4 separate regions of the Homo sapiens genome follow, and all the other regions are reported to be linked to region 2. Evidence: microRNA targets listed by miRTarBase, many of them from high-throughput screens and not tested one by one. Region 2 holds a microRNA gene; each other region holds the end of a gene's coding sequence.

Region 1 (3,108 bases), not on the chromosome of region 2:
TTTCATAAGGCGGGTAAGGCTAATGAAGTCAAATGCATTCCAAAGCCCAATTCAACTTAGCAAGAAGCAAAAAAAAAAAAAATTTTTTTTTTTGAGACATAGTCTTGCTCTGTCTCCCAGGCTGGAGTGCAGTGGTGCCATCTCAGCTTACTGCAGCCTCCGCCTCCTGGGTTCAAGCAATTTTCCTGCCTCAGCCTCCTGAGCAGCTGGGATTACAGGCGCCCATCACCATGCCCGGCTAATTTTTTTTTTGTATTTTTAGTATAGAAGAGTTTTCACCATGTTGGCCAGGCTGGTCTTGAACTCCTGAACCTCAAATGATCCACCCATCTCAGCCTCCCAAACTGCTGGGATTACAGACATGAGCCACTGCACATGGCCAACATTTGCTTTTTAACAGCAACTTTATGTATATATAATACATATATTTTATGTTTATTAATATATATTAAAATAATTGCTTTTAAATATATAATTGCACCACACACACACACAGTTTCTCTATACATGTGCCAGTAATTCTCCATTTGCTCCCACCCACCCCATCCCTACCTCAGATTCATTCTCCACCTTTCTCTGCACTCAAGAGGCTGACTTCTGAGAACTCCAGTCTCTGAGCTCCTCTTACCCTCTGGCTTCCAACATGGTTCCACTAATGGGAGCCAGTGGCAGGCATCAGAGAATGGGGGCACAGAGGGGATGGGGCGTTTGTCCCTCGCTCTGCTGCAGTGTCAGCCGCACTGTCAGATGCAGCTGGCTGCATCCCTCTGTTACGCCTCCAGGTAGCCCTTCCTGTGCTGCTCCCACTGCCTCCTCTTGAGCTCTCAGGCCCTGGTGGTAGCAGCCTCCTGCGGTGGCCAACACTGCTGTCACTGGCACTCAACAGCCTCAGTTCCCCCAGCCTCGCCCACACCCCTCTAAACAGTCCTTTCCTTAGCTTCTCTTCAGGAGTCCCAGAGGAGGGCCAGGACCCTGACTGACACTCCCTATAAGTAGAGTGCGCTCCCTCAGTAAATGCAGTGAAGTCCTGCTGTTTTCATCAAGGGGATTCTGACTGCATGGTGCATTCTCATAGGTCTTCAGCCTTCCAATAAAATATCAGAAAACCAGATAATATCATTCAACATTTTATATCAGAAAAGATCAGCTTTCCAACATTTATTCCATGGAATGAGTGCACAGCATTTTCATGAACTACCTCAGGGCTACATCAGTACAAAATAGTTTAAATTAGTAAAATAAAGTAGTTTCAAAGGGAAATCATTGACGACTTCAGGATAAGTGCCACCACCATTTGGGAACAGAGGATAGAAGGTAGCCATGTGGTTATTCCATGATGCAGGAATCAGGTCGGCAGGTGGACTGTCATTGCTGTCTTGCGGCAGCTGGCCTCTGCCTTCAGGGTACCACCGTCTCCAGGACACAAATGGGCAGCAGAAAAATGTCACCTTGTTGATGCTCAGCAGCTCATCTATTGGGACAAAACTTCCATCTCGGCCAAGGGAAATACTCTGTTGAGTGACCAGCGGGGCCCAGCCCCCAGCCCTATTTATCTCATCAATATGGTTCAGGGAAGATAAAAAAGAGTGTTCTATGGGATAGAAAGGTGGGAATAAGAAAAAACTAAGTGGCTGGGCATGGTGAGTCACGCCTGTAATCCCAACACTTTGGGAGGCCAAGGTGGGCGGATCACGAGGTCGAGATTGAGACCATCCTGGCCAACACAGTGAAACCCCGTCTCTACTAAAAATACAAAAATTAGCCGGGCGTGGTGGTGCACACCTGTAGTCCCAGCTACTCAGGAGGCTGAGACAGGAGAATCGCTTGAATACGGGAGGCGGAGGCTGCAGTGAGCCGAGACAGTGCTGCAGTGAGCCGAGATGGCACCACTGCACTCCAGCCTGGCGACAAAGGGAGACTCTGCCTCCAGAAAAAAAAAAAAAAAAAAAAAGGAAAGGAAAAGCTAAGCAGATGACTTATGTGGCAAATGAGGAATCAAATTCTCTATTTGTGGTCTGAGATGCCTTTTCCTGGCCCAGTTTTCTGTCCAAAAGGCTCTTTTAACCTCCAAGTTATACACTATTAATGGTAGGCCCATAGTGGGGCGGGGTGTGATGAGCTGGAAAAGCATGATGTGCGTGTGCGTGTGCGGGGGTGGGGCCATCATCAGAATTTGCACAGGCTGCTGGGAAGAGCCATGGCTGTCTGCTGGGAACTCTGCTGGGGCAAGCAAGCCCTTTGACTCTCCTGCCCATCTCTAGAATATTTCTAAAATGTTTTAACCAGCAAGTTAAAAAAAAATTTAACCCTCTTTATATAGATACCCTGGACACCTTTTCTTATGGTTCCTCCAAGATGATTATAACTTCCGTCTGACACTATATATTCCTTTAATAACAAAATTTCCCAGAAGGCTCACAAATCATGGTTGGCAGTGCAGCCTTTTCAATACTGGACACATCCCATGCTAAGGCCCTCTGCACAGATTTTGTTTACTATCACTGGCGATCAGCCCAAACTTCTCACCCCATATATCAACCCACCCCGATGTGTACACCAGGTACTATGTGACCCACCTACTACTGGCTAATGATGCAACTTCTGAGAGACCCTTGCACCCTCACTGCACGTCTTGCCACACAGGTGGCTTGGTGTCACGTACTCCCTGGCACCATCTGGTTCATGCCAGGTTTAGAGTTCATCGTGTTTGGCTTCCTGGTCTTTGAGTTTAAATTCCTCGGCTGTGACCTTCCCATCTCCATTCCGGTCCTGGTTGGTGAACATATTCTTCACAATCAGCTCAGCATCAAAGCCAGGAGCGAGTTTCCCTTTGCCAGATGCCACCTGGGCGTGAATGTACTCTGAGAACTGGAAAAGAAGGGGACAGGAAAGACCATGAGTTCAGCCGCCATGAACGCCAGGCCTGGGGCCAGAAACAGAGCAGTCTGGGGGTGACAGGGCTGGAACTTGAGTCTGGGCTACCAACACAGACAAGATCTTTTTGGCAGCTATATGACCTATGATCTGTGTTTTGTTTTTTTTCTCTAAATGCAGGTGAAAAACCCTTGTGCTAAATGACTCCAAGAGCCCTTATTATTCAGGTAGCCA
Region 2 (3,108 bases):
TGCATTGTTTACTCATCGTGCAAGTGACTTAATCTCTCCGTGCCTTGGCTCTTTCTCCATGTTCTGCACATGTCCAAACAAAGGGAAAAACAATTTCCTCCCATGATGGGGAGCCATAGAGAAAGCTGGTGAATTGGGGGTCACCGCTGAGCCCCTCTTTCGGTCATGCCTGCTGTGGGCACTGCCCATAAACCCCATTGTCCTCTGGCTTTGCGTGTGCATGAGCAAACTGGACAGAGCCGGATGACACCAAGACGATGTGGAGACTGAGTGTTCCCTGAGATGGGAGCAGAGTCACCTGGTCTAGCCAAGGTCCCCCGGTCACAGCAGACCCACAGACACAAATACCTTAGACAGAAGCCCCCAGACACAGAACTGCACTGGAGAGCCACTGATGCCCACAGGGAGACAGGAGCTACCCCAGAGGGGTCCAGAGCCCATGGAAGCCCCAGCCCCAGCCAGGCCCCAGTCACGCCGTGTGCCAGCAGCAGGTCCTGTGGCCAGACAACCCCACATGCGGCCCCCACACTCAAAGCAGGGGGAGAAGCAGAAGATGCCAGGCAGCAGGTGGCCAGGGCAGCGTGGCCGTGGGAGGTGGGGTTCCCCGCTAGAGTCTGCGTAATAGACACGGAAAATCTTTACCGGCATACCCATCTTGCCCCTCTTGCCAGGAACGCCAGGCAGGCCCTGCAGGGGAGAGACAGGGGAGAGGTCAGGGCAGGATGCCAGCAGGGACAGCCAGGCTTGCCCCAAACCAGCCCAGAGCCACCCACGGCAGGAAGTCACAGAGGGCCTGGAATGTGTGCCACTTGCGTGGCGGCCCCAGTGACATGCACATCAGACGGATGGCAGGGTCGGGGTCTGTGGTGACCTAAGAGACAGAGAAATGCCAGTTCCTGTAATCAGCAGGTGCTTCATAAATGCTCAGGCTCCAGCTGTCCTAAGGTTCTCTATACCCAGCTTATGGAGGTTACAAGTGAGTTCCCATAGATACGGGCTCAGGTTGGGAGGGGGCGGGGAGGAAGATCCCGAGGCCACCACCCCAGGGGCTTCTAATGGACCTCCAGGCTGGGCCAGGGGTCTGTGAGAAGCTCCCACACCATCTTTTGGACTCCTCTGACTTAGATACTTGGTCTGGAAGGACAGGGTGTCTTAGGAAATCTTAGCACCCACTGCCCACCACCAAACCAGTCCCACCACCTTCCCCAGACAGCCGCTCCCCCTGGCTGCTGGAACTCCTGCCACCTGCTCTTGCTGTCCCCACCCCCAACCAACACATTTTACTCAAGTAAACCAACTGATCTGTCTAAAAGAGGAATCAGCAGATGGTTTCTGGAAAGGGGCAGATAGTGAATATCTTTGGCTCTGTGGGCCATACGGTCTCTGTCACACCTACTCAACTCTGCCATTGTAGTGAGAAAGCGGCATTGACAATATGTAACCAAATGAGCAAGGCTGAGTTCAATAAAACTGTTTGCAAAAACAGACAACTGGCTGGATTTGGCCCATGGGCCACCGTTTGCAGACCCCTGATCTATATTATAAAGTGGGCCCGGTGTTCATTGGTTGCAAGTCCTCAAGAGGCTCCGCATACCCTCAGAACAGAGTTCCTTTTCTAACCTTAGTCCTGGGCACCTAAGACATTGCCCCAGGGTCCTCTCCAGCCTCAACTCCCACCACTCTCACCCTCTCACGCAGCACTTTGGCAGTGTTGAGTGTTAAACTCGCCAAGTTACCGTAAATCCCTGACTTCGCACATGCTGTTCCCTATGCCTGGAATGCATCTGCCTTGACTTGTCCCCTTATCAGACTCCTACTCGACTCAAGTGCACCTCCTCCAGGAGGAATTCCTTGACTTCCCCAGGCTGGTGCCTGGCAGGTTCTGCTCTGTTTGGGCAGGGGTGGCTGTGGATGGTGAATAACCAAAGAAGCAAACTTACTCGTTCTCCATCAGACCCTGGCAGGCCGAAGAGCCCTGGGAGCCCAATGTAGCCCTAGGAAAGAGAAGAAAGGGGGTCAGAGCGGTCAAGCAGTGAGGTGTGGCTGGCCCAACCTGCCGCAGCCCACCCACCACTGCCATCCCACATCCCGGCTCCTCCTCTTCCTCCCTGGTGGCAGTGGCAGCTCCGGTGGCTCCTCGATGACATAGGCCTTGAGGCAAGTGTATATGCCCATGGACTGCATGGTGCTGGCTTCCACGATGTAGTCCAAAGGCACATACCCTCACGCCAGGGAAGGGCGCAGGCGCTCGCCGGCAGGAGGCCCGCCCCACGCCAGGGCTCCAGGACCTGCAGAAGGAAGCTCGCGGCTGGGTTAGATGCTAGCACGGCACCAAGCCCTGCCCACCCCCAGGGATGCTGGTAGGTGCCCGTGGCTCCTGCCATGGCTCCTCCTAGGCCTTCAAGGTCCTGGATGTAGGGCTTACATCCACCTCTGGCCGCCTGAGTGCTGGCATTAACTAACAGCGGCTGCGAACCCGGAGTGCCAACATTGTGCCAGGCACATGCATGCTACCACATTAGACTCTCACAAGGACCCCCCAGATTGTCACCACCCACACTGGACAGACAAAGAAACTGAGGCTCTGTAGATAAAGCAACACGACTAGTCAGTAGTGGAGCTGTGAATTCTCTTCGGGAATTCCTAATCAGTTCAAGGGTCACCCAGGGCCAGCTGACTCCACAGCTGGGGCTCGTCACCATTCTGGGGCTCTTCCCTAGGATGCATCTCATTTCCTCCCTCCCAGCCTTTCCTCACTCTGTCCCCTCCACCAGGCATGTCCTTCCCATCCCTCATGACTTCTGAGCCAAATCCTTCAAAGCCCAGCTCTCATAAGCGCTCTCCTTGGGCAAGCATCCCTGATACCCCAAGCCGGAAGCAATCTCTCCCCCCCATCCCCAGTGCCATTTTTGCACCTCGGTAGCATCCTTCTCCACTTTCTCCCTTGTATCTTCATTATTTGTGTTCATGCTTCACGTCCTCATTAGCCTGGGAACTTCTAAAGGGCAGTAACCTCGCCCGGGGCTTCTACCACTATCTGCGTGCCACTCTTGGTGGAATGATTTAATAATAACTCTAACAAAAGCTAATGTTTATTGAGCACGAATG
Region 3 (3,108 bases), not on the chromosome of region 2:
AGAAAGTTGGTCCAGATATATGTCACAGAACTTTTCACTTGTATACTACTCTTACAATGGAAAAAAATCCCGAAAACTGTATACTTCTGATTAAATTCAATAAAAGATTTTGATTAGATATTTCAGAATTGCCAGTATGCTCAATACTGTTAGTGTTTAACATCAATTTAATATCTGAATTAGAACTTTAAGGATAGTCTACTCATCTCTTTGTCTTAGTCTGTTTGGGTTGCTGTAACAGACCACTGTAGACTAGGTAACTTGTAAGCAACATTTATTTATTTCTCACAGTTCCAGAGGCTGGGAAGTCCAAGATCAAGGTGCCAGCAGACTTAGTTTCTGGTGAGTGTCCTCTTCCTTGTCCTTTCCTCACCATCTCACATGGCAGAAGGGACAAGAGAGATAGAGCACTAATCCCATTCATGAAGGCTCCACCCTCATCATGACCTCCCAAAAGCCATACCTCCTAAAATCACCATATTGAGTGTTAGGATTTCAAGATGAATTTTTTGAGAACACAAACTACTCAGTCTATAACACTTGCTTCGATAACTGAGTCTAGTTATCTCACCAGTTATATGCTCAAGGACCACAGGCCTGCCTTATATATGCAGTCACCAGTGGGACAGAAACCCAACAGGATGACTGGGCCTGCCTTTTTAAAAGGCTGACCTTAGGCCCTGTCTGGTATATTTATCTGGTTGAACTAGCAACCAGCAATATTAGAACATGAAAAATCAAAGGCTAGAGAAGCGACCATGGTATGCATGATGAGTGATCCATCCACTAGATTATATAGCTCAGTGAGTAACAATTCTCATCAATTAGACCAACAACTCTTCCTACTATAAGGGGGTGTGCAGAGGGACAAAAACTCCTATACTTGGCTACATGGGTAAGAATGATGGACATGCAGATCTTCTGGGCCACGGAGAAAATGTGGACAAGGCAAGAAATTCCTGTCCCAACACTGTTGGTATTGCAATATAATGGGTAGGAAAGAATGATGAGAGGGTAGTAGAGTAGTGTAACAAATTTACACACCATAAACTTGGCAAAAGTAGCTGCATACTTCTGGCAGTCAATTTGGAAAGAAACAATCAGTTTTAAAGTTCCTAGTCTTGGCCAGGCATGGAGGTTCAGGCCTGTAATCCTAGCACTTTGGCAGGCCAAGGTAGGAGGATTGCTGGAGTCTAGGAGTTCAAGACCAGCCTGGGCAACATAACAAGACCCCATCTCTACACAAAATAAAAAATAATAGCCAGTTGTGGTGGTGCATGCCTGTAGTCCCAGCTACTCAAGAGTCTGAGGTGGGAGGACTGCTTAAACCCAGGAGGTCAAGGCTGCAGTGAGTCGTGATTGTGCCACTGTACCCCAGCCTGGGTGACAGAGAGACTTGTCTCAAAAAAAAAAAAAAAAAAAAAAACCCACAAAAAATCCTAGTCTACACAACTGTAACCTATACAACTGAGGAGAAATCTCTTCAGTGGATTCTCAGAGGATGGACTCCAGATAGATATACAGTGCATCACACTCTTCACCATCCCCATAGTAAATACAATAGCAAGATTCATGGGCCTGTTTCTTCTAACACCTGTCAATACAAGCCAAAGCATCACAGAGAAGTGCAAAGTTAAAGCATCTCAAAAGCGGCCAACATGATGCAGCCCAAATATAGTGTAGTCAGAAATACTGTTTAAAATGATCCACTGGTTAAAGACCCACTATTTAACACTACTTAATCTGTTTAACTCAGATTTTCTAGTATTTCGAATACTAATGACATATTAGGGAATTCTTAATACTAGATGATATCTGAAGTAAGTTTTACTTGCCATACCCTAATCAAAATATAACAGCACTGACAAAAATCCCTAGGAGGCAAAAATAAGACTTAAGACTAAAATTCCTGACTTGTGATTATGAATTTAGTACCTATGTGGACAAAAAATGGTCATTCCTCAAAAGCCAAATAAAGCACCAGACAGAATTATATAAAAGTAATTACAAATTAAGAATTTATTTATAAGTTTTCATCTTTTTAGAAATAAAAAGGCTTAAAAAACAAAATGGTTGCAAAAATGGTTAAGTAGTTTTGTTATATCCTAATTGCTTAGGTGTGCTCTGTAAATTCCAAATAAGTAAAATAATATAAAAATACATTTTCATATCTTTATAGAACAAAAACAAAACATTAAATGCTTTTGGATTTTCTTTACTCCTCCCACAGATGAGTTCACAAATACAAAAACTGGTGTACATTTATACTCAAGTACAAATCTCCAACAGCCAAGTAATTATAGTTTGTTCTGTTATGTGCAAAGTAGATTATTTCATATTTACTTGGTATGGAAAGCAGAGTACAGGCTCAATGGACAATAATCATTAAACACAGATTATGTTTAAGAAAATGCTGTTGTAAAAATGTACAATAGTACATACAATTTTGGTAATTATGCACTTCTTTTAAAGTAAATACAGCTTTTAGATATAAATCTTTCAAAGGTTTTCTTTGAAGAGCTGTGAGGTGACTATTTCAGATTTGATGAACAGTAATTTGTCAGTAAACTTCTCAAAAAACCAATCCAAGAAAGAATTGTTTTCTTTTTCCCTCCATGTGGTCGGTTTCATTCTTAAGGAAGGTCTGATGCAGTAAGAAGATGCATTTCACAAACCTTTACACAAGTTTGTGAACTGTCAACTAAAGACACCACCTCTGATGTGGATGGTTTCATTCAATCCATGTTCGACCAGCTTTATATCTTCTAGATCGTCTTTAATGATGCTAATCAAATGGCTAAGGCCTTCCTGTTGTTGTTTCAAATGCTAGAACAAATTAAGAAACAACATATTAATGTATTAATTTCTTAAAACTGCAAGCTAGTCACAGGAAAAAAGACTCCACTTTGACTATTTTACTAGCAACACAGTACCTAGTAAGTGCTCTAAATATAGAGGGCATGCATATTTAAACATTTGTACTACATCTTTTGCTAACAGTGAAAGACAAACTCTAAAGAACAATAAAATCAAACAAATATATAATGAACAATATCTTCCAACAAAAATGTTTTTTAGATAGCTATTCCTTTTACCAACTTTTGATAA
Region 4 (3,089 bases), not on the chromosome of region 2:
ATGAACTGGATTTCAGCAACCTTCTCTCCCCAACATTCTGGCAGTGCTAAATGCTTGCTCAATGAAAGTGAATTTTGGCAAGAAGAGTCCCCAGAAACCCAATATGTTCTGGCTGGAGAACAAACCTTCCTGGAAATCCCGTAGCTCAGAAAGCCAATGTTTCCCTGTTCCCCTGCAGGGTTGGGGCAGGCTCTAGACCACGGCCTCTATCATGAATGCACCAGTGGTATCAAGGCCGATATTCTGAAAAGTAACTAGCATACCAGGCTTCAGGAGCTTACCTTCCAGGTCTGGGGACAGTGACAAGCCCAAGCTCCAGGAAGACTATCAAAGGGAAACAACTGCTATTAGGGCAGCAGGAGAAACAAGCACTGGAGAGAGGCTGAGTATGTGAATAATCCCACACTGTGATCACTCATGACCTGCTAAAAGCTCTGGCTTGCCTCATTTGAAGAAATAATCAAATTCTGTCTTGCTGCAAACCTATTCTTCCTGATTTTCTCAGGGACTACTCCATCCATACTGAAATAATGTTTGACTTCTTCCCAAGAGCAAGTTAGTTAACAAGTTTAAGATTTCTCCCCCATACTTACATGTCCATACCCTCCCTTCTGCCCATATTCTTTAATTATTTAATTTTTATTTCTTGGAGACAGGGTCTCACTCTGTCACCCAGGCTGGAGTGCAGTGGCCCATCTTAGCTCACTGCAGCCTGGACCTCCCAGGCTCAAGCAGTCCTCACCTCAGCCTCCCGAACAGCTGGGACTGCAGGCATGCACCACCATGCCCACCTAATTTTTTAAATTTTTTTGTAGAGATTGGGCCTCGCTATGTTGTCCAGGCTGGTCTCGAACTCCTGAGCTCAGGCGATCTTCCTGCCTTGACCTCCCAAAGTGCTGGGATTACAGGTGTGAGCTACTGGGCCCAGCCCCCTCCGTCCATATTGTTACCCACCACACCAAGATTTTCATCAACCAGTTTCACATAATCAGAGCAATCCCCTTAAATTCCTATATTCCTAGTCCCCCAAATATCTGATTATGTCCTTAGCATCCTCTCAAGTAGTCCTGACACCAAGCCTCCTCCTAAACCGCCCACCTCCATATATACACATATGTGAACACACAAACCTGCTTTGATCACACCAGTTGCCTCACTTGCAATGCACCTTCGCCCAAGTTATTGGCTGAAGCCAGGACTTTCATGGGGATTCAAGCAGAAAGTCTGGGTTATGGGAAAGAAGGCATTTAGTTGGCCGGGCACGGTGGCTCACACCTGTAATCCCAGCACTCTGGGAGGCTGAGGCAGGCGGATCACCTGAGGTCAGGAATTCAAGACCAGCCTGACCAACATGGAGAAACCCCATCTCTACTAAAAATACAAAATTAGCGGGGCATGGTGGTACCTGCCTGTAATCCCAGCTAATCAGGAGGCTGACACAGGAGAATCGCTTGAACCCGGGAGGCGGAGGTTGCGGTGAGCCGAGATCATGCCATTGCACTCCAGCCTGGGCAGCAAGAGCGAAACTCCATCTCAAAAAAAAAAAAAGAAAAAGAAAAAGAAAAAAGCATTTTAGTGGCCCAGGTGGCAACATAGTTCAGCTCAACATTCAACCCAACACTGATGATGTACAGCTGTGCTCTGCATAGGGCAGACAGCCCAGTAAAAGGCTCGGTGCAACAAAAGCCAAGAGTCATTGAGTACTTACAAATTGCTTAGCACAGTATTTGACATATAAGTACCATCTCCCTCCATTACTAACAATCACCACCGCAGAAAGTAAGTGCTATTACTATCCCCATGTTACATGAGGAAACTGAGGCTCATAAAGGTTGGGTAATTTGTTCAGGGCTCCACAGCTAACTAGAGGTGGACCTGCAATTTCAAACCCTGATCTGCCTGGTCGGAGTACTTAATTACATGATCTCCCAAAATAGGTTAGCCTTGCGGGGAGTGATCAATTAACTTACATAAAGTCCTTCCTCTCTCCAGTATCATGTGGGAAAGACTACTTGAAAGGACTGAAAGCCATATCTAGTTTGGAAGGGGTTCCCATAAGTAAACATCAAGTAAGATGCAGCATGTCATATTTTTATCCATTTCACACTCAAGATGAAGTTCCCAAGGATCCCTTCTGTAGCTGCTTCACCGTATATACCCTTCCTCATTCAGCCCATCCCAAAACAAATTCTGACAATGACACATGAGCTGCATGTAGCTGACCAGCCTACCAGATCTTTTATGCAGTTCGACATACAAGGTGACACCAAGGTAAGACAAATGAAGTTCCAGTTTGGGTGCCTCCATCTCCCTCCCCTGGATCCTGATCCAGTGACTGCCAAAACCAGAAAGAACTGGGGTAGGGTGCTTGATCATGGGGAACGCTGTTGTGGTTCGTCCGGCAGATGGGAAAAGGGAAAGGTTTCACTTCTTCACAATTTGAATGACATCCTCATCCTCCAACGTATGGTCTTTACCCACTTTCTGAGGATTGTGTTTCACAGAGAGACCCCAGACCAGAGCACTGCATGGAAGGGAAAAAGAACAGTCAGTGTAAATAATAACCTAGCTTCTGCCCTATTTGCCTGGATGCCACCCTTCTGCTCAGATTTAGTATCATACCCTTAAGAACCATAGACCTACAAAAGCTTTATCTTCCCTAGCAGCATGAGACACTGAAGCCTTAACATAAAAGCCGGTAAAGACTTCTGGAAGTTGTGTGGTTCCTCTTATTGCAGAAAGTCAAAGACAAAAAACATGTTTAGTATAAAGAGCCTAGTTTAAAATTAAAAGAAAGCATGGATTTGTTATAGAGAAATACTCTGGGCCGGGCGCAGGGGCTCATGCCTGTAATCCCACCACTTTGGGAGGCCGAAGGGTGCGGATCACCTGAGATCAGGCGTTCAAGAAAAGCCTGGCCAACATGGTGAAACCCCGTCTCCACTAAAAATACAAAAATTAGCTGGGCATGGTGGCGGGTGCCTGTAATCCCAACTACTCGGGAGGCTGAGGCAGAAGAATGGCTTGAACCCGGGAGGCGGAGGTTGCAGTGAGCCAAGATCATGCCGTTGCACTCCAGGTTGGGCAAC

The links. Region 2 holds the annotated microRNA hsa-miR-455-5p (UAUGUGCCUUUGGACUACAUCG, at 2,199-2,220, opposite strand). A microRNA usually pairs through its seed, bases 2 to 8, with sites in the 3' UTR of a target mRNA and lowers its output. Matches are read on the target gene's strand: a 7mer-m8 pairs with bases 2 to 8, a 7mer-A1 pairs with bases 2 to 7 and ends in A, and an 8mer does both.
Region 1: miRTarBase lists FKBP9 as a target of hsa-miR-455-5p. The part of its 3' UTR that is shown has no 7-base or 8-base seed match.
Region 3: miRTarBase lists NUP54 as a target of hsa-miR-455-5p. Seed matches in the 3' UTR shown: 7mer-A1 at 2,314-2,320.
Region 4: miRTarBase lists DRG1 as a target of hsa-miR-455-5p. The part of its 3' UTR that is shown has no 7-base or 8-base seed match.

What each region holds. Positions count from the first base shown.
Region 1 is chr7:33,004,935-33,008,042 of GRCh38, reverse strand. It overlaps FKBP9 (FKBP prolyl isomerase 9), which reads right to left. Exons shown (of 10, transcript NM_007270.5): 10 at 1,115-2,868. The coding sequence ends at 2,692. Among named protein-coding and RNA genes, the nearest start is that of FKBP9, 49 kb to the right of the region's middle.
Region 2 is chr9:114,208,561-114,211,668 of GRCh38, reverse strand. It overlaps MIR455 (microRNA 455), which reads right to left and starts at 2,235; the gene lies at 2,140-2,235. COL27A1 (collagen type XXVII alpha 1 chain) reads right to left here. Exons shown (of 61, transcript NM_032888.4): 11 at 1,941-1,994; 12 at 643-687.
Region 3 is chr4:76,112,669-76,115,776 of GRCh38, forward strand. It overlaps NUP54 (nucleoporin 54), which reads right to left. Exons shown (of 12, transcript NM_017426.4): 12 at 1,996-2,826. The coding sequence ends at 2,698. ART3 (ADP-ribosyltransferase 3 (inactive)) reads left to right here. Exons shown (of 12, transcript NM_001130016.3): 12 at 1-118. Among named protein-coding and RNA genes, the nearest start is that of NUP54, 34 kb to the right of the region's middle.
Region 4 is chr22:31,433,307-31,436,395 of GRCh38, reverse strand. It overlaps DRG1 (developmentally regulated GTP binding protein 1), which reads right to left. Exons shown (of 9, transcript NM_004147.4): 9 at 1,944-2,524. The coding sequence ends at 2,425. Among named protein-coding and RNA genes, the nearest start is that of DRG1, 35 kb to the right of the region's middle.